Homo sapiens: one gene and its partners. The protein of the gene in region 2 interacts with the protein of the main gene of each other region in a biochemical or structural test. Each region holds a gene or a part of one and is shown on either strand. Other genes may lie near its edges. The genes, in order: BCAP31, CASP8, OGT, PLA2G4B, ATG4D, DEDD and TNFRSF10B.

Region 1 (4,134 bases), on a different chromosome or scaffold from region 2:
ACAGACGTGAGCCAGTGCGCCCAGCCAACTGCCCACGTTTAAGATTAGTTTTCCAGGCTGGGCGCGGTGGCTTACACCTCTGCACTCCAGCCTGGGCAACAGAGCAAGACTCTGTCTCAAAAAAAAAAAAAAAAGATTAGTTTTCCAGACATTTTGATCTATACGTGGACCAGCATCTTTTTTTTTTTTTTTTTTTGAGACAAGGTCTCGCTCTGTCACCCAGGCTGGAGTGCAGTGGCGCGATCTCGGCTCACTGCAACTTCCGCCTCCCAGGTTCAAGTGATTCTCCTGCCTCACCCTCCTGAGTAGCTGGGATTACAGGTGCCCACCACCACGCCTGGCTAATTTTCGTACTTTTAGTAGAGACAGGGTTTCGCCATGTTGGCCAGTTTGGTCTTGCACTCCTGACCTCAAGTGATCCACCCACCTTGGTCTCCCAAAGTGCTGAGATTACAGGTGTGAGCCATTGCACCTGGCCTTTTTTCCAATAGTCTTGAATGGATGTCAAATTAGAGAATTGCAAGCCACTGAGGCTGACTTTGCATGGGCTATTCGGCCATTGGAGAAGAGTACAAAGCTGGATTTCCATTTTGCTCAGGGCCCTAGAGCTCGTGTGTGTGCTTTCTCTTCAACTCCTGTCCTTTTTGTCTTCTTCACAGATGGCAGAAGATTTTCAAGTCCCGGCTGGTGGAGTTGTTAGTGTCCTATGGCAACACCTTCTTTGTGGTTCTCATTGTCATCCTTGTGCTGTTGGTCATCGGTGAGTGAGCTATGGCTGAGGGCAGCTACCTGACCTAGACCCTGGTCTCTGCTGCAAAACCCTTTGCCACTTTTGATGTGTAGCATCCAGTTTTGGCTGCTAGGAGACAGACCAATGAAATGCTGTGTCTTTCTCTTGAGGGAGGGAAGAGGCTCCCTTTGCCCATGCTGCTGACCGCTAGTCGGTTCTTCACTTTGAGGCCCCTCTAGGCCGTACATGGTGGCTCATGCCTGTAATCCCAGCACTTTGGGAGGCTGAGGTCGGTGGATCACCTGAGATGAGGAGTTCGAGATCAGCCTGGCCAACGTGGTGAAACCCCATCTCTACGAAAAATACAAAATTAGCTGGGCGTGGTGGCGGGCACCTGTAATCCCAGCTACTTGGGAGACTGAGGCAGGAGAATTGCTTGAACCCACGAGGCAGAGGTTGCAGTGAGCCTAAATCGCACCATTGCACTCCAGCCTGGGCAACAAGAGGGAGACTCCATCTCAAAAAAAAAAAAAAGAGGCCCCTCTAGCAGTGGGCGTGGGCTTATACCAAGCAGTTTGTATGCAGCTTATGACGGCCACCTTACATTGCTTTTTTTCAAGACCTTGGAAGGAGGGACGCCTAAGGTTTCTGAGGCTGCTCCTCAGGTCACTCTAGAACTGAAGCCAAGAGAAGCTAACTGGCCTGTGACCTTGGTCTGAGTAGTGCTGCTCACCAGTCACTTAAACAGCAGAATTGCCTGGAGCAGGGCCTCTAATGGGGGACTGAGCAACCAAGCACACAGTGAAGTCCTGCCATTCCCTGTAGTAGTAGGAGGAGAACACAGAGATGTGTGGCAGCATATCTTGGGGAGAGATCCTAGACCTCTCTGCATCTGGGCTAGACTTGAGGTTTTCCCAGGTCGTTCCAGCTCTGTAGTTCTGTAAACTCTGACATTGAGGTGTACACTAGCAGGTGCTTGAAAGATAAACTGGTCCAAGGGCAAGCAGGCTCTGGGATAAGGCCAGGCCAGGTGGTGGTAAGATGAAAGGCAGACATTTTGCAATGAGGTGGTAGGGTGACCATCTGGAGACAAGAATCAATAAAGCTCTTGTCTGACTGGTAGATGTTTGTTGTTTTGCTGTGGTAAGTGATCGATATGTCCCCCTGTTTGGGCTCCAAAGTATTGGCTTGGCTCTGCTGTGGACACCACTCTTGTCTCAGAGCTGTGGTGCCTGCCTAGGCGTGGAACACTCCTCCCACCGAGTCCCAGCAGAAACACTGAGCGGGTGGGGGGCTGTGGTTCAGGGGAATGTGCAAAGCCTCACCCACCAGCTTCAGCATTAGGCATTTCTCCTTCCTGATGTCTCAGAGCCTGATAGGATATGTTCAGGCTGGACTGCCTCTGAACAGGCCAAGTGTTACCTGACAGCTTCCAACCACATAGGGTAGGTGCCAGCTGCCTGAGCACCTCAGTGTTCTTGAAATACTTGGCAAGGCCCCAAGAGGTAGTAGCTCTTTCTAACCAGGGTTCTCGCCCTGAGCAGCCTCCAAGCCAGGAGTAGGTAGGTAATATATGTGTCATCCCCAGGCCACTGAGTTTTTGAACTGAGCATGTGTGTTTTGGCTTTTGGGTCTGGGGTGGGGGTAATAACTGGGGAGGGGAGGGACCATGCTGAGGATGATTCCCTCAGGGTCTTGCCCCTTCCCCAAACCAGAAGGAGTATGTTTCTTTCCTAGAGCAGCTGAGTGGGCTGGAGAGATCCTTTGCGGAATCCAGTAGTTGACAAAGCCTTCATTCTTTTTTGGGATCGGGGAACTGCTTGGAAGTTCTAGGGGGACATATGGCCATGATGACTGGCTGCTTCCTACTCCCATGTTAAGAAGCATAATCTAGAAAGATCTGCAGAGCCTTCTTCAAACAGAAGTGTTAGTCACAGGTACTAGTGAAGGGTAAGGGGCATAACTAGCTAGAGCTGTGGCCTTGCTTGGGGGTGGGGAGGGTTGAGCAGATCCTCCTGGAGGATGGAGTTGCTGAGGGTGCAGGATCTTCCCACCTGGGCTGAGGCCCGAGACAGGGAGGGCTGGTTTCTACTGTGGGACTTGGGTTAGTATTGCTCAGTCCCCCATCCCCACTATTGGTCATTGGCCAAGGTGGTCCTTAGGATGGTGGGGTTCCTGGATGCAGGTGACAGTGTAAGGAAACATGTTTATCTTGTTTTTCTGATTACAAAAATAATGGGTAATTATTCTTAAAAATTCAAAAGTTGAATTTAGAAAGTTAAACTCCCCATAATCCCATTTCCCACAGGTAACCATCATGAGTATTTTGTTGTGCATTTCCAGAGGGGTTTTGTATGCTGACATCTTTAATAAAATGTCTACAACGGTGGGATCATACACACAAAGTATTTATGTTTCTTTCCACATTCCTGCTGGGACATGGCAGGAGGAGCATTCCACGCCTGAGCTGGTAGCACAGCTCTGAGATAAGACTGCTGTCCATAGCAGAGCCTAGCCAATACTTTGGATTGTGCTTTTTCTACCTGCTGCACGTTAGACATCTTTTTTTTTTTTTTTTTTTTTTGAGATGGAATCTCACTTTGTTGCCCAGACTGCAGTGCAGTGGCGCCATCTTGGCTCACTGCAACCTCCGCCTCCCAGGTTCAAGCGATTTCCCCTGCCTCAGCTTCCGAGTAGCTGCAGGTTACAGGCGCCCGCCACCATGCCCGGCTAATTTTTTGTATTTTTAGTAGAGACGAGGTTTCACCGTGTTGGCCAGGCTGGTCTTGAACTCCTGGCCTCAAGTGATCCGCCCACCTCGGCCTCCCAAAGTGCTGAAATTACAGGCATGAGCCACTGTGTCCGGCCAACATCTTTTTATAGCAATCTCATTCTTCTTAAAGATCATGTAGTATTCTCTCATGTGGTTGTGCCGTAATCCATTCTTTATAAGCATCTTCGAATCATTGCAAATTTATGCAAATACTTCTGTGGGATAATTTCAGAGGTGAATTGTTGAACCCGAGGGTATGAACATTTTGCATTTTATACAGGTGTGCTGTTTTTACCCCTGCTAACAGCGTTTGAGAGTACTCGCTTCGTGGTGCTGAGGGATGGGCAGATTTTTATAATGCAAGATCAACATAAAAACTAAGCAGCCTAAAACCGGAAATTAAGAACCCCATGAGGCCAGTGCCCTGACTCACGCCTGTAATCCCCACACTTTGTGAGGCTGAGGCAGTTGCTTGCGCTCAGGAGTTTGAAACTAGCCTGGGCAACATGGCGAAACCCCGTCTCTACCAAAAATAGAAAAAGAAAAAATTAACTGAGTGTGGTAGCACACACTTGTGGTCCCAGTTACTGGGGAGGCTGAGAGGTGGAGGTTGCAGTGAGCTGGGATCGTG
Region 2 (4,134 bases):
GAACTCCTGAGCTCAAGCCATCCACCTACCTGGGCCTCCCAAAGTGCTGGGACTATAGGCAATTAATAAAGTATTCTTTCTGATTAGAAAAATTATATACACTAATTGAAGATTATTTTAAATTCAGAGAAATTTTTACAAGTCCAAGAACACCATCACTCCATTCATATTATGAATATTTTTATTGTATTTTTACGTTGGCTCTTTGTGGTGTGTGTGTGTAAAATACATTTTGGATCACTCAAATGTATTTTAAAGATTAATGTCTATGCAGGCTGTCCTTCCCTTTCCCCTCTGCCTGCTGAGCCTAAGGCCTTAAGAATACTTTAAGGAGTAAAGTACTAAATCATTAATTCATCCTGAGCTAGTGGCTTTATTAATGAGTATCTCACAAATACCACAAAAATTCAACCTGGCCATGTGGAGCAATATAAAATTATGGCATTTCTTGGTATGTTTTTCTCTTTGGCGAGGAGACAACTTGATCTTGTGTTTCCAGAAGCATGTTAATTGCCCTGCTTGCAGAATCTCTCTGGCTTGAAAGGAGATTATATTCATGGCAGTCTGTGAATTTTCATTTTATTTCATTTATTTATTTGAGACAGAGTCTCACTCTGTTGCCCAGGCTGGAGTGCAGTAGTGCGATCTCAGCTCACTGCAACCACTACCTCCCAAGTTCAAGTGATTCTCCTGCCTCAGCCTCCTGAGTAGCTGGGACTACAGGTGGCTACCACCACGCCCGGCTAATTTTTTTGTACTTTTAGTAGAGACAGGGTTTCACCATGTTGGCCAGGCTGGTCTTGAACTCCTGACCTCAAGTGATCTGCCCATCTTGGCCTCCCAAAGTGCTGGGATTACCGGCGTGAGCCCCTGTTCCCAGCTTGAATTTTCATCTTAAAAAAGACCTTATGTTGTCCTATGTGCTACATATTTCATTACCAGTGTACCTTTCCTGCCATGTCTCATTCTAGATGTGTCTCTTCGTTGTTTGCAGGGGAGGAGTTGTGTGGGGTAATGACAATCTCGGACTCTCCAAGAGAACAGGATAGTGAATCACAGGTAGACGGAAACCTCCAAATCCTTTTTTTTACATTACAGATTCTAGTTATTTAATTTGTTAGCTTTTTTTTTTTTTTGCTGCCAGATAAACTGACAAGGGGCAGAAACTTACTGAAAATTTTGAGAACTGTAGAAAAAATTCACACAAAAAAAGTTAAAAATGTGACTTAATTTTTAAAATGTGACTCCTTCAGTTTTCTATACATTTGAATTTTATTTTAAGACCCGAGATGAAGATACTGGAATAGTTGGAGGGTGGAGGGGGTAATAAGCCTCCTACCAAATCTTCTAGCAGCCGTGCCAGCCTGGATGGGGGAGTGGTTTGGAGAAAGAGTCTAGCAGGAATGGAAAAAGCCAAGCCTTTTCCTTTAGCTTAATGTTTCAAAAATGCTTCTCCTTGGTGATGAGGTGTAAGCAGCAAACTCTCACAATCTAGCCATCTCTGTGTTTTTGTCTCAGTGAACCAGCAGAAACATGTAATTTTTAGGCATAATAACTTCTCTTTATGTAATCAACAATCCACCAAATACATCCTGACTTATTAGACGATCTGCTCCTCCTCATGGTAGGAAGAAGAGGAAATCCTGAATATCTGAAGTAGGCTTGAGAGAGATTATTCACTAGTGTGGGCTCCTGAGAAAATTACCAGACCTCTTTCATCTGAAAGTCAAGGATTAACCCAAGTAATGTGGTACTTTCTAAACAGTATAGCATGCTACAAGCATTGTCCCCACTGAAGAGCTAAAAACACTGTCTTAATATCTTAGTAAATCTTAGTATCTTTTTCCTTTTTTAATGTTTTATTGAGACAGGGGTCTTGCTACGTTGCCAAGCCAGGTCTCGAACTCCTGGCCTCAAGCAATCCTCCTGCCTTGGCCTCCCAAAGTCTGGGATTATAGGTACTAGCCACCGTGCCTGGCCAAATCTTAGTGTCTTAGTATCTCAGTAAATACACTTAATATGCTTAATAAATACTTAGAACACAACTGTAAATAATAAAAACTTAACATACTTGGTACAAACTTAATCAAATATTTAATATCTTAGAGTTAACATATTAAGATAACAGGTTATTTGCCCAAAGTCATAAGGTGAAGTAGAGGCAGGAATTGGGCTTCCTAGCCTGGAGTCCTTTTCTCCACCTCAAGGGGCTACGCAGACCTCCAACTAAATGCTGAGTTTCTCGGTACTGAAACAGCCCTAGGAGAATGAATAGGACACAGCGCCATCCCTGGCCAGTACTATCAGGTACTACAGTTTGGATACCATAACCTACAGTGTAGCCAGGACCTCCCTGACCAGCCCATCTCTTCCCAGCAGCCACCGTGGTCCTGAGAGCTGGGTTAAGCCATCACCTTTAAAATCCTGGGACCACACTGTGCAATGCATGAATGGGAGACCCTCAGCTGTTAGCCACGAAGCACAGATGAGTTCAGTAGACAGCCAAGAGAATCACAAGTCATGGCGTGGGGGCAGCCAAAGACATTCATTCATTCAGTGACTCTTGATTGAGCTCTCACAAGTTAATACACCGTAGTCCCTGGCACAGATGTTATGAACCTCAAGGAGTCTTCTGTATAGTATGGGAAGCAGAAATGAGAACAAACAATAATACAATGTGATGACAACAATATTAATATATGTGCAAAGTGCTCAGGAGGCCCAGGTATTGGGACACTGACTTTACAACGATGGGGCAGAAGTCTGAGAGGTCCTGTGTGAAGGAAATAGGTAGAAACTAGTTCTTCGAGGAAACGACCCCGAGTTGGGGTGGTGCAATGGAAAGCAAGTCCTCTTACTAGGGAGTTGTTTGTTTACATCTCTAGTGTTTGACCCACAGAGTCAGCTCCTGGGTTGGGTTTTTGTTTTCCAGACTTTGGACAAAGTTTACCAAATGAAAAGCAAACCTCGGGGATACTGTCTGATCATCAACAATCACAATTTTGCAAAAGCACGGGAGAAAGTGCCCAAACTTCACAGCATTAGGGACAGGAATGGAACACACTTGGATGCAGGTACAGTAGAACCCAAAAGAGAAAAGTAAAATATTTCTTATGCCTATTTTTTTTTAAATCAAAAGGGAGAGAACAAAAGCTATACCAAAAGGGCCATGTTTCAAGAAAATGGATTTAAACATATTTCCCTGTGGAGGTAAAGAACATTCTTATACATTTATCAGTTTCCTGCTTTTTTTAAAAATTAATTTTTTAAATAAAAGTAATGTATGTATAAATATAAAATATCAAATCTTACTAAAAGACATAATGAAAAGCAGTAATAAGCTTTGTTTTGAATTCAGCTAAATGCATAGCGCTTCTGTGGAATGTATTAGGCGATGAAATTGCTGTGGTATCAAAGTTCTTATAGAGGCTGCATTTTTACAGGTTGGGCTGTTAAGTGCAGCAGAAATTGTGGGTTCTTAACAGAAATAGCATTTTCAAGTATTAAATATTAAACTGGTTAGCAATTCTTTTGCTCAGCCAAATTAAGCTAAGATCAAGAACTTACAAGTTAAATGAAAAAACAATTTGTAGTATGTGAATATAAAAAGTGACTACAACAACAAAAAATAAAAATCATCCATCACCATTGAGAGATTAATAATTTTGATTTGATCAAAGAACTTTTGGAAATAGTGTTTATCAGGCATAACATCAATTATTGATTTGTTTTGCAAATGGAGGTAAGTTTAGAAAATTAATGTAGACTGATTATAATCATCAGGAGTCTGTAATGGCCCCTATTAACATTTTTTTTTTTTTTTTGAGACAAAGTCTCACTCTGTTGCCCAGGCTGGAGTGCAGTGGTGTGATCTCAGCTCACTGCAGCCTCCACCTCCCTGGTTCAAGTGATTCTCCTGCCTCAGCCTCCCAAGTAGCTGGGACTACAGGCACACACCACCACACATGGCTAATTTTTGTATTTTTAGTAGAGATGGGGTTTTGCCATATTGGCCAGGCTGGTCTTGAACTCCTGACCTCAAGTGATCCGCCTGCCTCGGCCTCCCAAAGTGCTGGAATTACAGGTGTCAGCCACCTGTACCTGGTCCCTGCTAACATTTGATTTGTTTATTTA
Region 3 (4,134 bases), on a different chromosome or scaffold from region 2:
TTCACTATCGGGCAGAAGAATTATCCAACCAAAGCCTCAATCCTGGCACCTGCCACTAGATTACTCATTAGTATTAAGTGCCATTAGAGTTGAGTGGGTGAATAATGAAAAGCAGTTGACTCTGCTTTTTATTAGCAGCTCAATTGTGCTGCTAGTCATCTGACTCATCAGTCCATTCATCTGGATGAGACACTCATCACAACAGTGAGCTTAAATTTTTATTTGCCCTATTTTGCCATTGTCAGTCACATCTACCAGTCAACAGGCAGAAACAATGACAACAGGAAGTATGCTTATTATTCCAAACTGTTCCATGGGTGAAAGAGACTTAAGTCCTAGAAAGTGAAATTTTGTCAACTGTGCCGAAAAATCATCATATATATGATTTGCTCTGGAACTATATTATGGTTTCCAAAATCACTTAATTCTACTGATAAACAGCTTTTGTGGTTGTATAGTATCATCCATCAGGTGAACCAAAAAGTCTGCCAACAAAGTACAGGCTGCCACACAACAATCTTACGGTCAGCCATACTGGGTCAGTTCCATCATCTCCCTGACTCAATACTGTCCTTCAAGCAATGACTGATGTTCTAGAGAGTAAGGTTGTCTCCCATCACTTCAAGCACAAAAGGCTAATACTAATCCTCAAAACATCAAAGGTACCATTAATCTTATTTGACTTCTCCTCTAATTAGCCTGAGCACTTTTTAACACTATACTCTCAGAAGTAATGAATTATATAATCTTGCTATCTACTTTGTATGGTTATGTTTTTTTCTAAACTGAAAGGGTTACCCCTGTTTTGGCAGACCATGACTGCATAATCCAATCCATGCATACAAGCTCCTTCTACTACTTGATAATTGTGGTTATACATGTTTGGACTTTTACCAATTCCTATGCCTTTTCTAAGTCATAATAATCAGAAGTCTTGCAATAATTCTCCAACAATGACTGTAATGGCCATACATAGTAGCCAGCTGTTGCGTAATTTTATTACCCTCTAGTTTCTATGAACTCTTGGATGGATGCCACTTAAGTCCTGACAGCATATCTATATTTTGTTATCATCTAGATCCATTACAGTATACTATATCAAGTTAACACAATGCTCATAGTTAAAAATACATTATCTTCAAGATTACTATAAGATAATCAATAAGGCAGTTTTAGGAAAAGCTAAAACATCATATTAAATGTAACGGTGAAATCCAATTCTCCTGTTTGGGGATCCAAACCTATGTGCATGAACAGCTAATTTCTAGAAAACGCACGGGCACCACCATTCTCCCAAAAGTTCAAAACCCAAGACATCACTTCTGCTTCATCTGTCAAATCAAAATGTTTTTGACAATTATATTTCTCAAAACTAGCCCATTTTATCCATCCCAGGTTAATACATTTCAGGCAAACTGTTACTCAATTCAATAACATGCCTGGAACTATAGGGAAAAGATATAGAATCCTTATCATCAAGGGGCTTACAATCTATGTGAAAAGACAAGGCACACACTAAATGCCCACTCAGTAGTAAAGAATTTTAAGAGAACTAGATGATGAGCTCATAAGAGAAGTTTAAGCTGGGCCTTGAAGGATGAGTAGGGTTTTAATAGACAAAGGAGGAGGGCACTGTATACAAGGGAAAATCGTGAGAATAAAAGGAGATAGAAATGAGCAAGATTTTCCTGTAGAACTATTTCTCCTAAGATTGCATCAGTTTCCTGCCTTTCCTCCTAGAGCCTCCCACCCCCACCAGCCACAACATCTAGACACGTACATACATATGAAGTAAAATCAGGTCGATAAAAACCTACAGTAATTCTCAATTGCCTCTCAAATTAAATTCAAACTCCTCAGCCTCTCTATTCTTTATAAATCTTCCAATTGACTCTCCTCTACTACATTCACTTCTTGTTACTACTTGACTCACCACTTCAGCCAAGGAAGTCTACTTGCTATTTACCTTCCTACAGAATGCTTAGGTCATAAGCACCCACTCGAGGAAATCTTCTGATTAATACTCTCCAACAATTATCATCCAAGGAACTTACACCATTTTTTCCTTTACGGGTCAGGTCCTGTCTTATATTATAACCCGCAACTTCCCCCACAACACATCTCCCCATTTCCTAACAAAGCATTGTATGCACAATAAGCACTCACATATTTAAATGTGACATTTGCACAGCAACCTTAACAAAAAGCAGAACAGAGAAGAATCGAAATATACAACAGAAAGCAGAACAGAGAAGAATCGAAATATATGGTTTTCTACAGTGCAGCTGTATAAGAGAGGCTCAGCAGTAACAAGTAACAAATAACATGACAGGAACACACATGATGGCCAGGATGCCAGCAGCTCTCCATTCTGTGCATCCACAATCAAAGCACAAGCAACAATTCAACAACCTATAGATTCAGAAACAGACCTGTTTAAAACAACTCAGGGTTATAGCCGTTACAGAAAGGACAATTTTATACATAATTTGCAAAAGGAATTGCCAGGTATAGGCAACTCTAGTGAGTCACCATGTCAAAGAACATGTGCTGTCACTGCAAGGTGCTATCTGCAATAACACCTTCAAATACAACAGACTGCCAGGCACAGTGGTTCACGCCTGTAATCCCAGCACTTTGGGAGGCTGAAGCAGGCGGATCTGTTGAGGCCAGGAGTTCAAGACAAGCCTGGCCAACATGGTGAAAGCCTGTTTTTGTAAAAATACAAAAAATTAGCCAGGCATGGTGGTGGGCACCTGTGATCCCAGCTACTTCGGAGGCTGAGGCAGAAGAATCGTTTGAACCCAGGAGGCAGAGGTTGCAGTGAGCCGAGATCGCGCCACTGCACTCCAGCCTGGGTGACAAGGGCAAAACTCCGTCTCCAAAAAAAAAAAAAAAATGACAGACTAAAATCTTACCAAAATTATGAAAACACCCAACATTATAATTATAGAAGATAATTCAGAATGAAAAAAATGAGATAGCTGTCTCAAAGATAATTTCTATAATCAAGTCACAGAGAACAACTTCTAAATTGACATATCTATTAACTTAAAAAGATAAACACTGTTGAAAACAGTTACCAAGGTTACCAAAGATACCACCTTAACATTCTACTCTTTCACTGCTGCAAAACCAAAATAACCTGAGTTTCTTTAACCATTTTTCATAGAATGCCAACTACATCTATGATTCAGGTACACAATGTACTAATGATGCATTTAAGCACTGTCAACAAGAACATAAGGAACAGACGCAAGGTTCTACCAGTACTGAACTGACAACGGGCATTTGACAGTAAGTTTAAATCTAGTTAAGACTTTAGATATCCTGAAATAAATTAAAATATGATCACTATGGCATGTTTAGTTGAAATCAAGGGAACTTGCACAATCCCATTTTCATTCTTATTGGTAAAAACAGTAATAAATAAGTAAAGCAGCACCTTCCACTAGAAGAAACATAGAACCAGATGACAACACATGGCCATTCAATGCATTCAAGAGGTAATCCCATGATTTATTTTAGTACTATCTCACTTCCTTGGTAGGGTACAACAATAAGCTTCCTGCTAACAGCAGGTTAGATATTAAATAGCAAGGTTCCATCTCTCACTTTAGTTTTCCTTCTCAGCATAGTCCTACTGCTTGGGTACACTATCAGTAGCAATGACTGCTCTGCTACACACATAGGCAACTGGAAACCTGAGCCAAGGGCATTAGAGTTAAAGATGGCAAGAACCACAGCTGTGTAAGAGGGTACACTATCAATAAGAGTAGAATCAACCTGATTAATAAAGGTAAAGAACTTACTGTGACAACTGGGTACAGAGGTGAGCCCTGAGCCCTGGGAAAAATGGGGTCCAAGGCCCAGTGGCAGTACATACCAGGCTCCCTAAAACTTTATGTGGGTAACTAGCTAGATTAGTATTGCAATAAAACTTACAAAAAGTCACTCAAATGTACATATATATACACTGAGTGTCTCAGAAAAGATAGACAAGAAATTAGTTTCATTTGCTACCTCCAAGAGTGCTAACTGGAGGTATTCACTGTATCCATTCAAAAACCAATAAATTTAGAAGCTGGGTGTGGTGGCACACACCTATAGTCCCAGCTACTCTGGAGGCTGAGG
Region 4 (4,033 bases), on a different chromosome or scaffold from region 2:
CAAGAACAAGCTGGGTGTGCTGGCCCCCAGCCAGCTGCAGCGGTACCGGCAGGAGCTGGCCGAGCGTGCCCGCTTGGGCTACCCAAGCTGCTTCACCAACCTGTGGGCCCTCATCAACGAGGCGCTGCTGCATGATGAGGTGCGGGGGCTGCGGCCTGGGGGCAGAGCCAGGGCAAGGGCTGGAGCTGGGGCTCGGTGCTGGACAGCAGGGTGGGAAAGGCCCTGGGCACCCAGGCCGCTGTGGGTTTAGGTTCTACGCATCTTTCCCCAGCCCCATGATCACAAGCTCTCAGATCAACGGGAGGCCCTGAGTCATGGCCAGAACCCTCTGCCCATCTACTGTGCCCTCAACACCAAAGGGCAGAGCCTGACCACTTTTGAATTTGGGGGTGAGTGGCCCAAGAGCTGAGACCTGTGCCCTTGCAGTTGGTGGAATAAGGGGAGAACGAGGACTGTGTGCAGATTGCAGATGTCACACCCACCTCTCCTGAGCCAGGTCCCGTGCTTTCTGGAGACCGGCACCCTACCAGGGTCCCTCAGCCCTTTGGGAAGGAGGCAGGGGCCTTAGGTCCTATGCACGAAGCCCAGGCCACAAGGCCTGGGCCTCCTGGTCCTCAGCTGCCCTAAAGCAAAACCCTGGGTCGGGGTGGGGGTGTGGGTGCCTAAGGGCTCTGCACCATGAGGCTGAGGCGTGGACTCCTCACAGAGTGGTGCGAGTTCTCTCCCTACGAGGTCGGCTTCCCCAAGTACGGGGCCTTCATCCCCTCTGAGCTCTTTGGCTCCGAGTTCTTTATGGGGCAGCTGATGAAGAGGCTTCCTGAGTCCCGCATCTGCTTCTTAGAAGGTGAGGGGCACTGGCAGGCTGGGGAAGCTGGGCCGAGCAGGGAAAATGGGTCCTGGGTGAGAGGGCAGCCTCGGTCAGAAGAGTTTCCTGGGCCAGGACTGGCCATGGGGAAGGGTAGGATTGGGACAAGAGTCGGGGGCCCTCTTCCCTCACGGCCGCTCTTTCAGGTATCTGGAGCAACCTGTATGCAGCCAACCTCCAGGACAGCTTATACTGGGCCTCAGAGCCCAGCCAGTTCTGGGACCGCTGGGTCAGGAACCAGGCCAACCTGGGTAAGTGCTCCGGGCCCTTCATAAGGGTGCCAAGGGGCAGCCAGCTGGGGCTGCACCAGGGGGCGGGGGGTTCACACCTCTTCCCCCTCCAGGGTCACCACCAAGGTGGGGATAAAGGTGCAGGAGTCCCCATTTCCCCCACCTTGCCTGTGTAGACAAGGAGCAGGTCCCCCTTCTGAAGATAGAAGAACCACCCTCAACAGCCGGCAGGATAGCTGAGTTTTTCACCGATCTTCTGACGTGGCGTCCACTGGCCCAGGCCACACATAATTTCCTGCGTGGCCTCCATTTCCACAAAGACTACTTTCAGCATCCTCACTTCTCCACATGGAAAGGTACCTGCTTCTCTCCAAAGTCCTCCTGTGGCCACCTGAGCCTTGAGTCCCCAGTCCAGATACCCCTCACAGTCCACTCCCATTCTCCTGCTTTGAGCTTGATTCCCTGGACTACTTGGAACAGGGGTCTTTTTCTCCTTGTCTTGGGGACCCAGGGCCCACCTGCAGGGCTGTGGGGGTGTTGGTTCAGCAGGAGAGCAGGGACCAGAGGCCAGAGTCTCTCCTTCCAGCAGGAATCTGGTACCCTTGGTATCTGTGACAATTGCTGCTCTCCCCAACCTTCCAGCTACCACTCTGGATGGGCTCCCCAACCAGCTGACACCCTCGGAGCCCCACCTGTGCCTGCTGGATGTTGGCTACCTCATCAATACCAGCTGCCTGCCCCTCCTGCAGCCCACTCGGGACGTGGACCTCATCCTGTCATTGGACTACAACCTCCACGGAGCCTTCCAGGTTGGGAAGGGTGGGCAGCCCACCAGGGAGGCGGTGGGTGGCCCCTGTCCCCTGAAGAGAGGGGCTTTGGAGTCCAGTGTCTGGTTCAGCTTCCTTTAGGAGCTGTGATTGGGACACTGGAATCTTAATTTGCCACCAGAGGAGCTCATTCTTTTCCGGAAGTTGGGAGGCTGGCGAGGTTCTCCTGGTATCTTGTAGCTGGGTCCCCTTTACTGACCTGCGAGGTGTGGTCCTGGGCCTCTGGGCCCACCTGCTGAGTCTGCTTTGGCTCCCAGTGTCAGAACTGGAATGCTGGGAGTAACCCGGCTCCGTCTAGCCCCAGAGGAGCTGCCACCGAGGCCTGTCAGGTGTGGAGAGTTTTTTTCCAACGACTGGCTTCATAGGCCCCACTGGAGACCGTTTTGGCATTTGAGCCCCAGGTCCTGTGCATCTTACGTCAGCCCCAGTGTTGAGGATGCCAGGGGCCCTGTCCCTCTGAAGCCCCTTCTGCCTGCCCTGCAGCAGTTGCAGCTCCTGGGCCGGTTCTGCCAGGAGCAGGGGATCCCGTTCCCACCCATCTCGCCCAGCCCCGAAGAGCAGCTCCAGCCTCGGGAGTGCCACACCTTCTCCGACCCCACCTGCCCCGGAGCCCCTGCGGTGCTGCACTTTCCTCTGGTCAGCGACTCCTTCCGGGAGTACTCGGCCCCTGGTGAGCTGCTGTTCACCTCCCCATCCTGCTGCCCCAGTCCCCCACACCTCCTCCGTCCCCTGTGCCTCTCCAAACCTGTCTTCCCCACAACGTGTTCCCCATGCCAGGCTGCACTCTCTCCACAGGGGTCCGGCGGACACCCGAGGAGGCGGCAGCTGGGGAGGTGAACCTGTCTTCATCGGACTCTCCCTACCACTACACGAAGGTGACCTACAGCCAGGAGGACGTGGACAAGCTGCTGCACCTGACACATTACAATGTCTGCAACAACCAGGAGCAGCTGCTGGAGGCTCTGCGCCAGGCAGTGCAGCGGAGGCGGCAGCGCAGGCCCCACTGATGGCCGGGGCCCCTGCCACCCCTAACTCTCATTCATTCCCTGGCTGCTGAGTTGCAGGTGGGAACTGTCATCACGCAGTGCTTCAGAGCCTCGGGCTCAGGTGGCACGGTCCCAGGGTCCAGGCTGAGGGCTGGGAGCTCCCTTGCGCCTCAGCAGTTTGCAGTGGGGTAAGGAGGCCAAGCCCATTTGTGTAATCACCCAAAACCCCCCGGCCTGTGCCTGTTTTCCCTTCTGCGCTACCTTGAGTAGTTGGAGCACTTGATACATCACAGACTCATACAAATGTGAGGCGCTGAGACCATCTGTTATTACTGCTGAGAAGGGCCATGTCATTCTAGGCTCTTGGCTGTACATGGCAAGGGCTGGTACAGAGCTCGCTCATCAGTGTTCTTCCTCCGAAGAGCACATTCTCTGCACACGTCTGCGTCTACCTGTGCTCAGAGTCACCCCTTCCAAGCAAGGAGGAGGCCACATGGGCCTGGGGTAGCCCTGGCCTTGCCCACCTGCTCTGCCGTAACACGTCTCCTCTTCACCCAGACAGGAATGCAGGGGGAGGCCAGGCAATGGCTGTTTCCTGCCACATGGTAGGACCCATCTAACCAGAAGGAACTGTCTATTCCAGAAGCTGGGCCTGGGGAACTGGGTTGAAGCAGCCACGGGAAGGAGCCCTTTTGCCTGTAGCTGAGTCTTATTCTGGTCCCTTAGATGTGTCCTCGCTTGTGCCCCTGAAGTTTGGTGTTGCACTGGGGTTCACCTCAGGGATCAGACCTGTTGGGAAAACGGAATGAATTTAGTAGGGTATGGCCACCCCAGAATCTTCTCCAAACAAACACACACTGGTGCCCCTGCCCTCCCCTGGACCAGCCAGCCTCCTAGAATAAGCGTGGGAGTGGATTCCAGAGCTGACTGACAGGCGCTGCAGCAGCGACCACAGTGACGCGTGAGTGGGTGGGAGTTGCCTCGACTTTCATAACCCAACTCTACGTCTGTCAGCTGGCCTAGCAGCCCCAGCCCTGGGTTAGAGACAGCAGAAAAAATGGCTGTCCTGGTAGCCTCAGGAGCCACTGTGTCCAGGACAAGGCCTGTCCCGTCAGCAACACATCA
Region 5 (4,778 bases), on a different chromosome or scaffold from region 2:
CAGTGGCTCATGTCTGTCATCCTAGAACTTTGGGAGGCTGAGGCTAATCGTTTCAGCCCAGGAGTTCAAGACTAGCCTGAGCAACACTGGGAGACTCTATCTCTACAGAAAAATTTTTAAAAATTAGCCAGGGGTGGCCAGGCACGGTGGCCCACGCCTGTAATCCCAGCACTTTGGGAGGCCGAGGTGGGCGGATCACGAGGTCAGGAGATCGAGACCATCCTGGCTAACACGATGAAACCTCGTCTCTACTAAAAATACAAAAAATCAGCCAGGCGTGGTGGCGGGCGCCTGTAGTCCCAGCTACTCGGGAGGCTGAGGCAAGAGAATGGTGTGAACCTGGGAGACAGAGCTTGCAGTGAGTCGAGATCGCGCCATTGCACTCCAACCTGGGCAACAGAACGAGACTCCGTCTCAAAAAAAAAAAAAAAAATTAGCCAGGGGTGGTGGCATGTGCCTATAGTCCTAGCTACTCAGGTGGCTGAGGCAGGAGACTTGCTTAAGCCTCGGCAGTTGAGACTGCAGTGAGCCATGATCAGGCCACTGCACTGTAGTCTGGATGACAGAGCAAGACCCTGTCTCAACAACAACAACCAAAATCTGTTTGGGCCTCGCAAGGTTAGAGAAAAAAAATTAAAAAATAAAATAAAATAAAATATTTTCCTGTAGTCTCAGCTACTTGGGAGGCTGAGGCAGGAGGATCACTTGAGCTAAGGAGTTTCAGGCCAGCCTGGGCAACATAGAGAGAACTTGTCTCTATAAAAAGTTAACTGATTACTTTTTAAAACAAAGAGGTTTTTTTTCAGCCTTATTGAGGTATAATAGACATATACAAAACCATGCAAATTTTAAGCGTACAATCTGATGAGTTTTCACACCTGTGAAGCCACTATTACAGTTAAGATACTGAATTTATCCACAGCTCCAAAAAATGTCTTCCTGCCTGAGGTGGTGGCTCACGCCTGTAATCCCAGCATTTGGGAGGCTGAGGCGGGAGGATCTCATGAAGCCAGGAGTTTGAGACCAGCCTAGACAACATAGCGAGACCCCTTATCTACAAATAAAATTTAAAAAATTAACCAGGCATGGTGGCTCCTGTCTGCGGTCTCAGCTACTCTGGAGGCTGAGGTTGGAGGATCAGAGTTGGAGGCTGCAGTGAGCTATGAAAGCGCCACTGCACTCCAGTCTGGACAACAGAGCCAGATGCTGTCTCGACAAAACAAACACTGAAAAAAACTTTCCTGGAGCACTTCATTCATCCCTCCCTCCCGCGCCTGCCTACCCCTGGATTTTTTTTCCCTGAGCATAATTCTCATGAAGATTCGTCTATGTTGTTGCGTGTATTCCAGCCCTATTTTGCACATGAGGAAACTGAGGCACAGAGAGGCGTGGCTTGCCCCGGAGGTCACACTAGTCGATTTGGTCCCAGGCCAGGGCGGGTTCTGGGTCGGCAGCCCGCGCAGGTGCACTCGGGAGGCGGGGCGGGCGCTGCAGGTGCGCAGTCAGTCTCACCTGGGCGCCTGCCAGGAGGTCAGTCCTGGGCCCTGGGGGGCAGGACTAGGGGCGGGGCCAGGGGCAGGGGTTCCCCAGCTCTGCTGCCTCCGATAAGGGCCTGAAGGGGCTGTCGCGCTCCTGGCGGTGTGATAAGGAGGGCGGGGGGAGGCCGCGGGAAGGCGTCGGGGTTTGAGGTCCCCGCCTGGCGACCCGGGATCGGGGCAGGAAAGGCGGCTGGGCGGGGAGAGGGCGGGGCGGGGCGTCTGGCTTGGCCACGCCCACCGTCATCCGGGGTCCTGGCCCGCTAAGATGGCGATGGCTGCGGTAGCAGCGGCGGCGGCTGTTGCCTGGCCCGGTACCCTGGGGACGGGGGCCGAGTAGCGCCTTCCCCGGGCCCCGTGAACCGGCTGCGGGTCGCCCTTGGGGGGCAGCGGCCGCAGCCCCCCACCTGGGCCCTCGGTCCGCCCTCCCGGCGCGTCCATGAACTCAGTGTCGCCGGCCGCCGCGCAGTACCGGAGCAGCAGCCCGGAGGACGCGCGCCGCCGGCCCGAGGCCCGCAGGCCGCGGGGTCCCAGAGGCCCAGACCCCAACGGCCTGGGGCCTTCCGGAGCCAGCGGCCCCGCTCTTGGCTCTCCCGGGGCTGGCCCGAGTGAGCCGGACGAAGTGGACAAGTTCAAGGCCAAGTTCCTGACAGCCTGGAACAACGTCAAGTACGGTGAGGAGGGGGCCCGGAGATCGTGGGGGTGTCGGGGGCCGTTGAGGAAAACCAGACCCCGGTCCTGCCAGTTATCCCACCCTTGTTCCCGTCCTGAGTCACCTGTGGGTCCCCTCCCTGCCCGGCCCAGGGTGGACCTGTGGCAGGTCCAATAGTGTTTTCAAGCCCCGCCCATTCCCCTGTGTGACCTTGGGCAAGATCCTTTGCTTCCTGGCGCCTCCGTTTTTGCCCCTCTCTGTAAAATGGGTACAATAATCAGAACTACCTTCCTTCATCCTGAATTGATGGTGGACACTCCTGTAGCTGTCACTGGGGGCCCCACCTCCGACGGAATCCCCGGAGCCACCCCGGAGATAGGAACTAGGATCGTGCCCATTTCACAGATGGGGGAATGGAAGCGCTGTTGCTGTCATGCAAGTGCTTCATCTCGCTGGGCGCTGCCCCTACGTCTCCCCAGGTTGGGTGGTTAAAAGCCGGACCAGCTTTAGCAAGATCTCCAGCATCCACCTCTGTGGCCGCCGCTACCGTTTCGAGGGCGAGGGTGAGCTGGTGGTTGGGACCAGGGCTGGGGGAGGCCTCTCCACGCCCGCCGGAGTGTCCCTGGTGGCAGCTGACAGACCCGCTCTTGTAGGTGACATACAGCGTTTCCAGCGGGACTTTGTGTCCCGCCTGTGGCTCACATACCGCCGGGACTTCCCGCCCCTTCCTGGGGGCTGCCTGACCTCGGACTGTGGCTGGGGGTGCATGTTACGCAGCGGCCAGATGATGCTGGCACAGGGCCTTCTGCTGCATTTCCTGCCCAGAGGTGAGCCATAGGGGGGAAGGGGTGCACTAGGAGTACAGGGTCAACTGCCATATCAGCAGTATTAGAATTACTTACCAACTAAGAGTTCAAAGTCACGTTAGAATTGTGTGTCAAGTAAGTTTTGGAGAGATGAGAGTTGTTTATAAGAGTTTCAGCCGGGGTTGGAAACGGTGGCTCATGCCTGTAATCCTAGCACTTTGGGAGGCTGAGGCGGATGGATCCCTTGCGGTCAGGAGTTCAAGACCAGCCTGGCCAATATGATGAAACCCCATCTCTACTAAAAATACAAAAATTAGCCGGTTGTGGTGGCACACGCCTGTAATCCCAGCTACTCCCGAGGCTGAGGTGGGAGAATCTCTTGAACCCAGGAGGCGGAGGTTACAGCAAGCCAAGATCGCACCACTGCACTCCAGCCTGGGCAACAGAGGGAGACTCTGTGTCAAAAATAAAAATAAAAAAAAGTTTCACCAGGCACGGTGGCTCATGCCTGTAATCCCAGCACTTTGGGAGGCTGAGGCTGGTGGATCATGAGGTCAGGAGTTCAAGACCAGCCTGGCCAAGATGGTGAAACCCCATCTCTACTAAAAATACAAAAATTAGCTGGGTGTGGTGGCAGGCACCTGTAATTTGGCAAGGTAAAGCAGAGAATTGCTTGAACCGGGGAGGCGGAGGTTGCAGTGAGCCGAGATCCGTGCCACTGCACTCCAGCCTGGGTGGCAGAGCGAGACTCAGTCTCAAAAAAAAAAAAAGAGTTTTGGCTGGGCACTGTGCTGCATGCTTGTAATCCCAGCTACCTGGGAGGCTGAGGTGGGAAGATTGCTCGTGCCCAGGTGTTCAAGTCTGCAGTGAACTATGATCCTGCCACTGCACTCCAACCCGAGTGACAGAATGAGACTCCAACAATAACAGGTCGAGTGTGGTGGCTCATGCCTGTAATCCCAGCACATTAGGAGGCTGAGGCAGGAGGATCGCTTGAGCATAGGCATTCGACACCAGCCTAGGCCACATGACAAGGCTCCTGTCTCTACAAAAAAATTTTAAAAATTAGCTGAGTGTGGTGGCATGTGCCTGTGATCCCAACTACTCAGGAGGCTGAGGCGGGAGAATCTGTTGAGCTCAGGATTTAGAGGCTGTAGTGAGACGTGATTGTGCCACTGCACTCCAGTCTGGATGACAGTGAGATCCTGTCTTTATTTATTTATTTTATTTATTATTATTATTATTTTTTTTTTTGAGACTGAGTCTTCCTCTATCATCCTGGCTGAAGTGCAGTGGAGAGATCTTGGCTCACTGCAACCTCTGCCTCCCAGGTTCAAGCGATTCTCCTGCCTCAGCCTCCTGAGTAGCTGGGATTACAGGTGCCCGCCACCACGCTTGTCTACTTTTTGTATATTTTTTTTTTTATCAGAGAAGGGGTTTCACCATGTTGGCCAGGCTGGTCTCGAACTCCAGGCCTCAAGTGATCCACCTGCCTTGGTCTCCCAAAGTGCTGAGATTACAGGCATGAGCCACCGCGTCTGGCTGAGATCCTGTCTTTAAGTAACAAAAAATAAATAAATAAATAAGGATAAGTATATGTTTCAGGAATATGTAAATTCTGTTGAATTACGGGGTTCAGGAGCATTCGCATTGTGTGCGGTGCATGTGTAGATGGGACCTCTGCCCCCCACACACTAGCACTGTTTGACTATGTGCTCCATTCCACCAGACTGGACATGGGCCGAGGGCATGGGCCTGGGCCCCCCTGAGCTGTCAGGGTCAGCC
Region 6 (4,134 bases), on a different chromosome or scaffold from region 2:
GAGTTTCGTCTCTTGGTATTTGGCAGTGTTTCAGATACCAAGACTTGAGTTAGTTCTAATTTTCTGTTCAGAGGGTTACATTCTCCTCACCATTCTGATACCTGTCATCTAGAATCTCTGTATGTTTTAAGTTGAGCTCCCTTGCTTCACTGTCACAGAAATACGAGTATATTTTGGTTTTAGAGGAAATTGGTCATGTTTTCTTTTCTAATTTTACTAATCAGCTGAACTTTCATCACTTTTTTTTTTTTTTTTTTTGAGGCAAGGTCTCACTCTGTACCCCAGGCTGGAGTGCAGTGGTGCGATCAGAGTAGCTGGGACCACAGGTATGTCCCACTATGCCCAGCTAATTTTTGTTTATTGTTTGTAGAGATGGAGTTGTGTCATGTTGCTCAGGCTGGTCTCGAACTCCTGGGCTCAAGCAGTCCTCCTGCCTTGGTCTCCCAAAGTGTTGAGATTACAAGTGTGAGCCACCATGCGAGGCCTCATCACATTCTTTTAATGTTAAAGTTAGATAGATTCTTGGAACCCTTATCTGGGTTGCATTAAGTGGAGAGGGCTGCCTCTTAACCTGCATGACAGTATCCTCATATTTCTCCCAAGCACATGGCCTTGAGGAACTTACATATTTCTATGTTTGCTTCATTGAATAAGCAATATAAGTCTGATTAGTGACCTCACAAGGAGAATTTGCTGCTCATCCAGTTCCAAGACTTTAAAGATGACCCTGAGGCTTACGAGCAGGATCCTTTGTGTCTGTCTTGCAGAGGATTACATTTCTAATATCCCCATAGAACTCCAGATTGAACTAGGTCAAAGTAGACCTCCTGGGATGGGGCAGAAGTGGATGTAGAACTACCACCTGTTCCTCAGCTGAATGGCAACAGCAGGTGACAGAGGACCCAAGGTTGGAGTGGCATGAAACACCTTAGTGCAGTTGGACTTGGGAGTTAAATGAACATGTATGTCCGACAGGCTTTTCTTTTCTTCTGGAATGTTGTTTGATGGGTTTGGATGGAGGGACCAGATGGCTTTTTCTAGATCTAGTGTGGAAAGTGACATGCATTCTTTTGACCCTTTACCATGCTCCACCTAGAATAGGGTTTCTCATCCTTGGCATTATTGACATTTTGTGCTGCATGATTCTTTGTTGTGGCAGACTGTTCTGTGCATTACAGGATGTTTCTTTTTTCTTTTGAGACAGGGTTTCACTCTGTCACCTGGGCTGGACTGCAGTGGCGCTATCACATCCCACTGCAGCTTCGACCTCCCAGGCTCAAGCGATTCTTCTACCTTAGCCTCCCAAGTAGCTGGGATCACAGGTGCATGCCACCACGCCAGGCTAATTTTTATATTTTGCATAGAGATGGGGTTTCACCATGTTGTCCAAGCTGATCTCAAACTCCTGGGCTCAAGTGTTCCTCCCACCTTGGCCTCTCAAAGTGCAGGGATTACAGACGGGAGCCACTGCACCTGTCCTATAGGATGTTTCTAAATATCCCTGGCTTCTACTCATTACATGCTGATGGCAGTCCCCTTCCCCACCAGGCATAATAATCAGAAATGTCTCCAGACATTGCCACATATTCCCCAGGGGTCAAATTTGCCCCTGGTTCAGAACCACTGACCTAAAAGCTATTATAATTCCTAGTACATTGATGATCTAGCCTGGGATCTAGGACTTAAAGGTGGCTAGTGTGTTTGTTTCCTCTCAAATGTAGGGAGTTAACTTCAAAGGATTGAAGCTTATAGAATTACATCCATTGATACATAATTAGGACCACAGTGCTTTCCTGTATTTTGCCTTATTTTCCATTGCGAGGGTATGTGGGGACAGTGTTTCTTCATTTCCTGGGGTTTAAGCACACTTTAAATTAGGGAACTGTGGAGCAACCAGCTCTTCTGGTTGGTTTAATGTGAAACCTACCCAATCTGCTTTATCTGAGAGCCTCACAATCAACAGCTGGCCCAAGGGAACAGGTGGGATAGGGAACAAAGAGAAGTTGCAGGGGCTCTGAGGAGGCTCAGTTTTCTCATGTTGCCTGCTATGAGCAATAACTTATTTTCCTTTAGCACCTTCATTTGTACCCAGTAACAGCAACAGGTGAATCGAGAGGAAGAGGCAAGGAATACCAGTCTATAGTTGAATAGCTATTTCCCATGCTTTGGGTGGGGCATCTGGGCTCTCAAAACTATATATGGATTACATTTCCTGTCTACATATCAGAACCCATGGTATAGGGTTAAGTGATCCCAGAGTGTACCTCCCCTTTTCTTAAGGGAATGAGTTTCTCTGTGCTTTCATTTTAGTTTTTCATCTGAGGAAGAAAGGACCAGTTCCTACTTACTCTTCAGCTTTCTCTATCAGCTTTGTTTTTCCAAAGAAGCTTATTATTTTATTGTTTCCTAGTCTAGCCTCAGTTCCTTTTTGTATAAAATGGACAGAGCAACCTGTTTAATTGTTGAGTAGGGTAGAGTGGTGTGGTATGGTGTGGGTAGTTCTGGACATTGCAGAGGAGGCTATGGCTAGTTAGAATATATGCATGGTAACTGAATTACCTGTATCTGTTTTTAATGGGGTCCTCTCTTGGACTTTTGTGAATTTGTTTCTTAATTGGAATTGCTTGAGGTGATCTCTTGGAGATTAAGTTCAGTTCAACAGTGGGTTGCTCCCACTATATTTGAGGCTCTGTCCATTACTAGGCACTAGGGATATAAAGATGAATATATCTCTCCATGAGTTGAGTAGGATCTAATGGGATAATAAATACACAAATAATTTTAGTACATGGTGATAAATGGTGTAAAGGAGATATGCATAGTGTTCCATAAGCGCACAGAAGAGGACTACTTATCTCTGCATGGGGGTGTAGAAAATGCATTTTGAAGATGGCATCTGAGCTGACTCTTAAAGAATGAGTAGGAGTTAGCCATCTGAAAAAGAGTGATGATGGGGGTGTGGAATAGAGAAGGGAGAGGGGCATTCAGGCAAAGAGAAGAGCCTGAAGAAGGTATAGAGAAATTGCATGATGTATGTGAACTATAAACAAACTGATAATGTTAGAGAATAAAAAGCGGATGTGATGGGAAATGAGGTTGGGAAGGTAGGCCTGATCTTAGAAGGCTTGATGTGTGTGTAAAGAATTTGGAGTGTTCGGCCAGGCGTGGTGGCTCACACCTGTAATCTCAGCACTTTCGGAGGCCGAGGCAGGCGGATCACAAGGTCAGGAGTTCGAGACCAGTCTGGCCAATATGGTGAAACCCCGTCTCTACTAAAAATACAAAAAGTAGCTGGGCGTGGTGGTGGGTGCCTGTAGTCCCAGCTACTCGGGAAGCTGAGGCAGGAGAATCGCTTGAACCTGGGAGGCGGAGGTTGCAGTGAGCCAAGATCGCGCCACTGCACTGCAGCCTGGGCGACAGAGTGACTCTGTCTCAAAAAAAAAAAAAAAAAAAAGAGTTTGGAGTGTTCTTATAGATAACGATGGGGCAATCAATGGGTCTGAAGCAGGAAAGTGACTTGGTCAGTTGTGGACTTCAGACAGCTAACTGAACTAGATGTGGCAGTGGATGGATTTAGGTAGGTTAAGATTGGTGTTGCAGAGAACTTTTAAAGTTACAGTAGTCCAGGTGAGAGATTATTGTAATCTGAACCATGGCAGTGGAGGTGGAAAGGTAGGATAGATTTAAGAAATATCTAGAAGTAGCATTAACAGGAATTTAGGATTGATTGTGTGATTGGAGAGTGTGACCAGAGAGTGCACAGTATAGGATGGTACTGTCTGGTGGAGCAGTAAGTATGAGTGACTTGAGTCAAAGTTGTTGAATTTGGGAATTGATTAATGGCTGCGTCATTGGTATTACCTGTAGCCCATAACGATGGAGGAACTTTGTGAATCAAGAGCCAAACTATATAACGAATGTGGAGCTGTGATTGGTCATTGATAGGGGATTGGTAAATGACATCCATGAGGAAAGCTTAGAAGGTGGTATTGCCAAGGCCAGGTACGGTGGCTCACGCCTGTAATCCCAGCACTTTGGGAGGCCGAGGTGGGTGGATCACCTGAGGTCAGGAGTTCAAGACCAGCCTGACCATCATGGTAAAAACCCATCTCTACTAAAAATACAAAAATTAGC
Region 7 (4,134 bases), on a different chromosome or scaffold from region 2:
CTCCCTCTGTTGCCCAGGCTGGAGTGCAGTGTGACAATCTCAGCTTACTGCCACTTTCACCTCCCAGGTTCAAGTGATTTTTGTGCCCCAGCCACCCAAGTAGCTGGGATTACAGATGCACACCTCCATGCCTGGCTTTTTTTTTTTTTTTTTTTTTTTGTATTTTATTAGGGACGAGGTTTTGCCATGTTGGCCAGGCTGGTCTCCAACTCCTGGCCTCAAGTGATCCATCCGTCTCGGCCTCCCAAAATGCTGGGATTATAGGCATGAGCCACTGCACCTGGCCTCCTCATTCATTTTTGATTTAATTTATTTGTCTTCTTTCTTTTTTCTTAGTTAGTCTAGTTAAAGTTTAGTGATTTCATTTATTTTTTCAAAAAACTAACAGAATTTTGATAATCTTTTGTATTTTTTTCAGTCTCTATTTATTTTTGCTCTGATTTTTATTATTTCTTTTGTTCTGCTAACTGTGGGCTTAGTGTATCTTTTCTTCTATTTCCTTGAGGTACAACATTAAGTCTTGTATTTGAGATCTTTCTTCTTTTTTGATGTAGGCGTTTATTGCCATTTCCTCTTAAAACTGCTTTTGCTGCATCCCATACATTTGGTTATGTTATGTTTCCATTTCATTTTCTAATATACTCTTAAAATTCCCTTTTGATTTCCTCTTTGACACATTGGCTATTCAGGAGCTTGTTACCATTCAAGTTCTTTGTTCATTTCTTAATCACATTGTTGGCTTTTTGTTGTTGTTGTTGAGTTGGAGTTTTTTATATATTTTAGATATTAACCTTTTATCAGATATACAACTAGCAAATGTTTTCCTCTTCCTGTGGGTTGCCCCTTCACTGTTGATCATCATTGGATGCACAAAAGTTTTTAATTTTTACATAGTGCAATTTATCTACTTTTTTTCCTATATTGCTTGTGTTTTGGGGATCACATTCAAGAAATCATTGCCAAATCCAAGGTCAGGAAGAATAGTTCCTATGTTTTCTTCTAAGTTTTAGGGTTTTCACTTTTATGTTAGATTTTGGATCCATTTTGAGTTAATTTTTGTATACGTGTAAGTTAAAGGTCCGAGGTCATTGTTTTGTGATGAGTCAATGTCTAGATTTCCCAAGACCATTTTTAAAAAGATTGTCCTCTCAATTAAATGGTCTTTATACCTTTGCCAAAAATTACTTGATCATATACAGTCATGCACCACATAACAACATTTCTGTCAACAACAGACTGCATATGTGATGGTGGCTCCATGCAATTATGTAACATGCTACACAGGTTTGTAGCCTAGGAGCAAAAGGCTATACCATATAGGCCAGGTGTGTCATAGGATACACCATCTAGGTTTGTGTAAGTACACTCTTCTGATGTTCACACAACACAATTGCCTAATGACCCTTTGCTCAGAACAATGTTGAGCAATACATGGTTGTACGTGCAAGTTCATTTCTGGGCTCTCTGGTCTATATGTCAGGCACCTTTTAAATCAGAAGTTCACTATTTAATGTTTGATCCTGTATCCCAATTTTTTAAGTTTGCTATATTATAACCCCCATTTATAAAAATGTGTGTCTGTGTGTATGTCTGTGTGAGAGAGAATAAGAGAAAGAGAGAAAGAGAGAATAGGCATACCTATGGAAAAATAGTGGAACTAAATGAGACAAAATATTAATGGATGCTATCTTTAGCTGAGAATATCACGTGTGGTCTGTGTATTCTTGTAAAAACTTTCCTTGCCCACATTTTCTGGAATGAACATGTTTAGAAGAGTTTTGCAGGTGTATGTTACTTGGCCTTCCCTGAAATATGAAGGGACAAACAAACACTAAAGGATGTTTGAGAGGTGAGAGCTGCAAGAAAGATGAGGGTTCTGTTTAGCTTGGGTGCCTGGGCTCAAGAGAATGTGAGTGGATCCTGGGAGGGGTGAGGTCTGGAAGCCACTCATGCCCATCCCTGCTTTGTCCCCACAGGTCTCAGCTGAGTCTGCTCTGATCACCCAACAAGACCTAGCTCCCCAGCAGAGAGCGGCCCCACAACAAAAGAGGTCCAGCCCCTCAGAGGGATTGTGTCCACCTGGTATGTTCAAGATGGGTCTCTAATCCTTGCCCCTCCTCCCCTTGTCTCCATGAGCTTCCAGTCTGTTTCCTTTGCACTTCCTTGTTCTTTATTCCACAGAGAGGCATTGGGTGCCTCCAGTTCAAGGCTCTGTCCTTCTGGAGCCTTCCTGCTAGGATGGTATCAAGACACACAAATGAATGAGACAGCCAAAGAAACTGATAGGAACCTTGAGAGAGAATTGAGTGGGACAGAGATGGGGCTGGTGAGGCCTCCAGGCAATGGTGACTTTGGGCTGACATCCGGAGGAGGGCAGGGCCAGAGGTTCAGAGAGCCAGGAAGAGTGCTCCTAGGAGGGTTCCACTGGAACAATTGCCAGGGGGCAAGAGTTGGAGAAGATGGAGCAACAGCAGGGGGCTGCTGTGGGGAGTGGAGGGTTAGGAAGTTAGAGAGACACGTGGGGTCAGATCCCACACAGATGAAGCTGGATTTTATTTCATGAGTGATGGATGTCCCTGAGAAGTTTTCAGCAGAGGGCCACCAGCATCGGATGTACATCTTGAGTGCCCACTCCTGGACTGAACCGGAGCAAGACAGGAAGCAGGTGGAGGGCCTTGAGTGTGAGGCGCTCCCCTGGGATGTTATGTGGTGTCCCGTAAGGTCATTTGAGCCCCCAGAGATGCAGCAGGAACCTGGCCTGAAGTGTGCTTGACTGTTGTGTTCGCCTCGCACTTCTTCCCCCTTTTCCCCCATGTGTATGAGTTAGGAATTGATTGCTGCATGAAGGTTTCCAGGGCAGGCAAGTGTGGCAAGCAGTGGCTTTTAAAATCCATTTACAAAGTTGCATTTCTTTTCCATGACTAAGGGCCACAGGAAAGGCTTGCCTGAGGGCAAACCCTCACATTGCACATGTGGGCTTGCCAGGAGCAGAGCATGGAGAAGGAAGAACCCAGCGTGAAGCAGACACAAACTCATCTGTAAATGCTCCTATTGCTGTGGTCCAGGGTCAAGACCAGGAAGCAGGACGGGAATAGGAAGGACTCAAGACATATTTGGGGTGTGGATGGATGACGTGTGGGGAATGAGGACAATCGAGGCACCAAATTCAACTGCTCAGGGTAACTTGGCCTCTGAGGGGACAGTGTGTGGCAGGGCTAGCAGTACACATTTGGGGACCCTAGCACATAGGTGATGCTTGAAGCCGCTGTCTTGAGTGTGTCCACCTGGAAGAAGTTGTAAATACTGAGGAGGGGCACAACTGAGCCCATGAGGATTTGAAGTTGGAGACGATAGGCCAGGGAGACAGGACTGCAATGGGCTGAGCAGGAGCAGTTGGAGAACTTCCATCCTAGAGGAGAGATGGCCCTTCCAGCCACAGGGAGCAGGCCATAGCAAGTGTCAAGGACTGAGATGTGGAAACTCCTCGAAATGTGCATTTCTCTTCCTGTGAATGAGGTCAAGAATCTGTTCATGACACAGACACTGTTTGTACACTGGTTCTCCTAGGTTTTCTTCACTCCTAGTAAGAGGTTAGGTTTTTTTTTTTTTTTTTTTTAAATCATTGAGTCACATGAATTCTTACAGATTAGGGAAATTATACATTGATTGATTGATTGATTGACTGATTGAGATAGGATTTCACTCTGTTGCCCAGGCTGGAGTGCGGTGGCAGGATCATAGCTCACTGTAGCCTCAACCACTTGGGCTCAAGCGATCCTCTCACCTCGGCCTTCCAAAGTGTTGGGATTACAGGCGTGAGCCACTGCGCTGGGTCCAAAATTCTAATAAAAATTCCCATATAACGCCGGGCGCAGTGACTCACACCTGTAATCCCAGCACTTCGAGAGGCCAAGGTGGGCAAATCACTTGAGGCCAGGAGTTTGACACCAGCCTGACCAACATGGCGAAACCCTGTTTCTACTAAAAATACAAACATTAGCTGGGTATAGTGGCGTGCCTGTAGTCCCAGCTACTTGGGAGGCTGAGGCAGGAGAATCGCTTGAACCCGGGAGGCAGAGGTTGCAGTGAGCTGAGATCACGCCATTGCACTTCAGCCTGGGTGACAGAGTGAGA

The links.
Region 1: of the proteins of CASP8 (region 2) and BCAP31, one has a biochemical effect on the other in vitro, tested with the Homo sapiens proteins (2 studies listed by BioGRID, with this or other methods).
Region 3: the proteins of CASP8 (region 2) and OGT form a complex in vitro, tested with the Homo sapiens proteins (one large-scale study listed by BioGRID).
Region 4: of the proteins of CASP8 (region 2) and PLA2G4B, one has a biochemical effect on the other in vitro, tested with the Homo sapiens proteins (one study listed by BioGRID).
Region 5: of the proteins of CASP8 (region 2) and ATG4D, one has a biochemical effect on the other in vitro, tested with the Homo sapiens proteins (one study listed by BioGRID).
Region 6: the proteins of CASP8 (region 2) and DEDD form a complex in vitro, tested with the Homo sapiens proteins (2 studies listed by BioGRID).
Region 7: of the proteins of CASP8 (region 2) and TNFRSF10B, one has a biochemical effect on the other in vitro, tested with the Homo sapiens proteins (one study listed by BioGRID).

The regions. Positions count from the first base shown.
Region 1 is NC_000023.11:153,717,498-153,721,631, reverse strand, and holds part of BCAP31 (B-cell receptor-associated protein 31), read left to right. Parts: intron 1-659; coding exon 660-760; intron 761-4,134. UniProt on the Homo sapiens protein: Functions as a chaperone protein. Is one of the most abundant endoplasmic reticulum (ER) proteins.
Region 2 is NC_000002.12:201,273,895-201,278,028, forward strand, and holds part of CASP8 (caspase-8 isoform 2 precursor), read left to right. Parts: intron 1-994; coding exon 995-1,059; intron 1,060-1,628; exon of another isoform or gene 1,629-1,742; intron 1,743-2,932; coding exon 2,933-3,074; exon of another isoform or gene 3,075-3,648; intron 3,649-4,134. UniProt on the Homo sapiens protein: Thiol protease that plays a key role in programmed cell death by acting as a molecular switch for apoptosis, necroptosis and pyroptosis, and is required to prevent tissue damage during embryonic development and adulthood.
Region 3 is NC_000023.11:71,539,438-71,543,571, reverse strand, and holds part of OGT (UDP-N-acetylglucosamine--peptide N-acetylglucosaminyltransferase 110 kDa subunit), read right to left. Parts: intron 1-4,134. UniProt on the Homo sapiens protein: Catalyzes the transfer of a single N-acetylglucosamine from UDP-GlcNAc to a serine or threonine residue in cytoplasmic and nuclear proteins resulting in their modification with a beta-linked N-acetylglucosamine (O-GlcNAc).
Region 4 is NC_000015.10:41,844,932-41,848,964, forward strand, and holds the end of PLA2G4B (cytosolic phospholipase A2 beta), read left to right. Parts: coding exon 1-139; intron 140-271; coding exon 272-389; intron 390-706; coding exon 707-844; intron 845-1,011; coding exon 1,012-1,116; intron 1,117-1,271; coding exon 1,272-1,451; intron 1,452-1,737; coding exon 1,738-1,904; intron 1,905-2,405; coding exon 2,406-2,592; intron 2,593-2,717; coding exon 2,718-2,929; 3' UTR 2,930-3,212; downstream 3,213-4,033. Other genes in the region: JMJD7-PLA2G4B protein, read left to right, coding at 1-139, 272-389, 707-844, 1,012-1,116, 1,272-1,451, 1,738-1,904, 2,406-2,592, 2,718-2,929; SPTBN5 (spectrin beta chain, non-erythrocytic 5), read right to left, coding at 3,685-3,697. UniProt on the Homo sapiens protein: Calcium-dependent phospholipase A1 and A2 and lysophospholipase that may play a role in membrane phospholipid remodeling.
Region 5 is NC_000019.10:10,542,117-10,546,894, forward strand, and holds the start of ATG4D (cysteine protease ATG4D isoform 1 precursor), read left to right. Parts: upstream 1-1,787; 5' UTR 1,788-1,974; coding exon 1,975-2,209; intron 2,210-2,592; exon of another isoform or gene 2,593-2,620; coding exon of another isoform or gene 2,621-2,666; coding exon 2,667-2,750; intron 2,751-2,840; coding exon 2,841-3,014; intron 3,015-4,722; coding exon 4,723-4,778.
Region 6 is NC_000001.11:161,125,664-161,129,797, reverse strand, and holds part of DEDD (death effector domain-containing protein), read left to right. Parts: intron 1-4,134. UniProt on the Homo sapiens protein: A scaffold protein that directs CASP3 to certain substrates and facilitates their ordered degradation during apoptosis. May also play a role in mediating CASP3 cleavage of KRT18. Regulates degradation of intermediate filaments during apoptosis.
Region 7 is NC_000008.11:23,041,086-23,045,219, reverse strand, and holds part of TNFRSF10B (tumor necrosis factor receptor superfamily member 10B isoform 1 precursor), read left to right. Parts: intron 1-1,976; coding exon 1,977-2,082; intron 2,083-4,134. UniProt on the Homo sapiens protein: Receptor for the cytotoxic ligand TNFSF10/TRAIL. The adapter molecule FADD recruits caspase-8 to the activated receptor.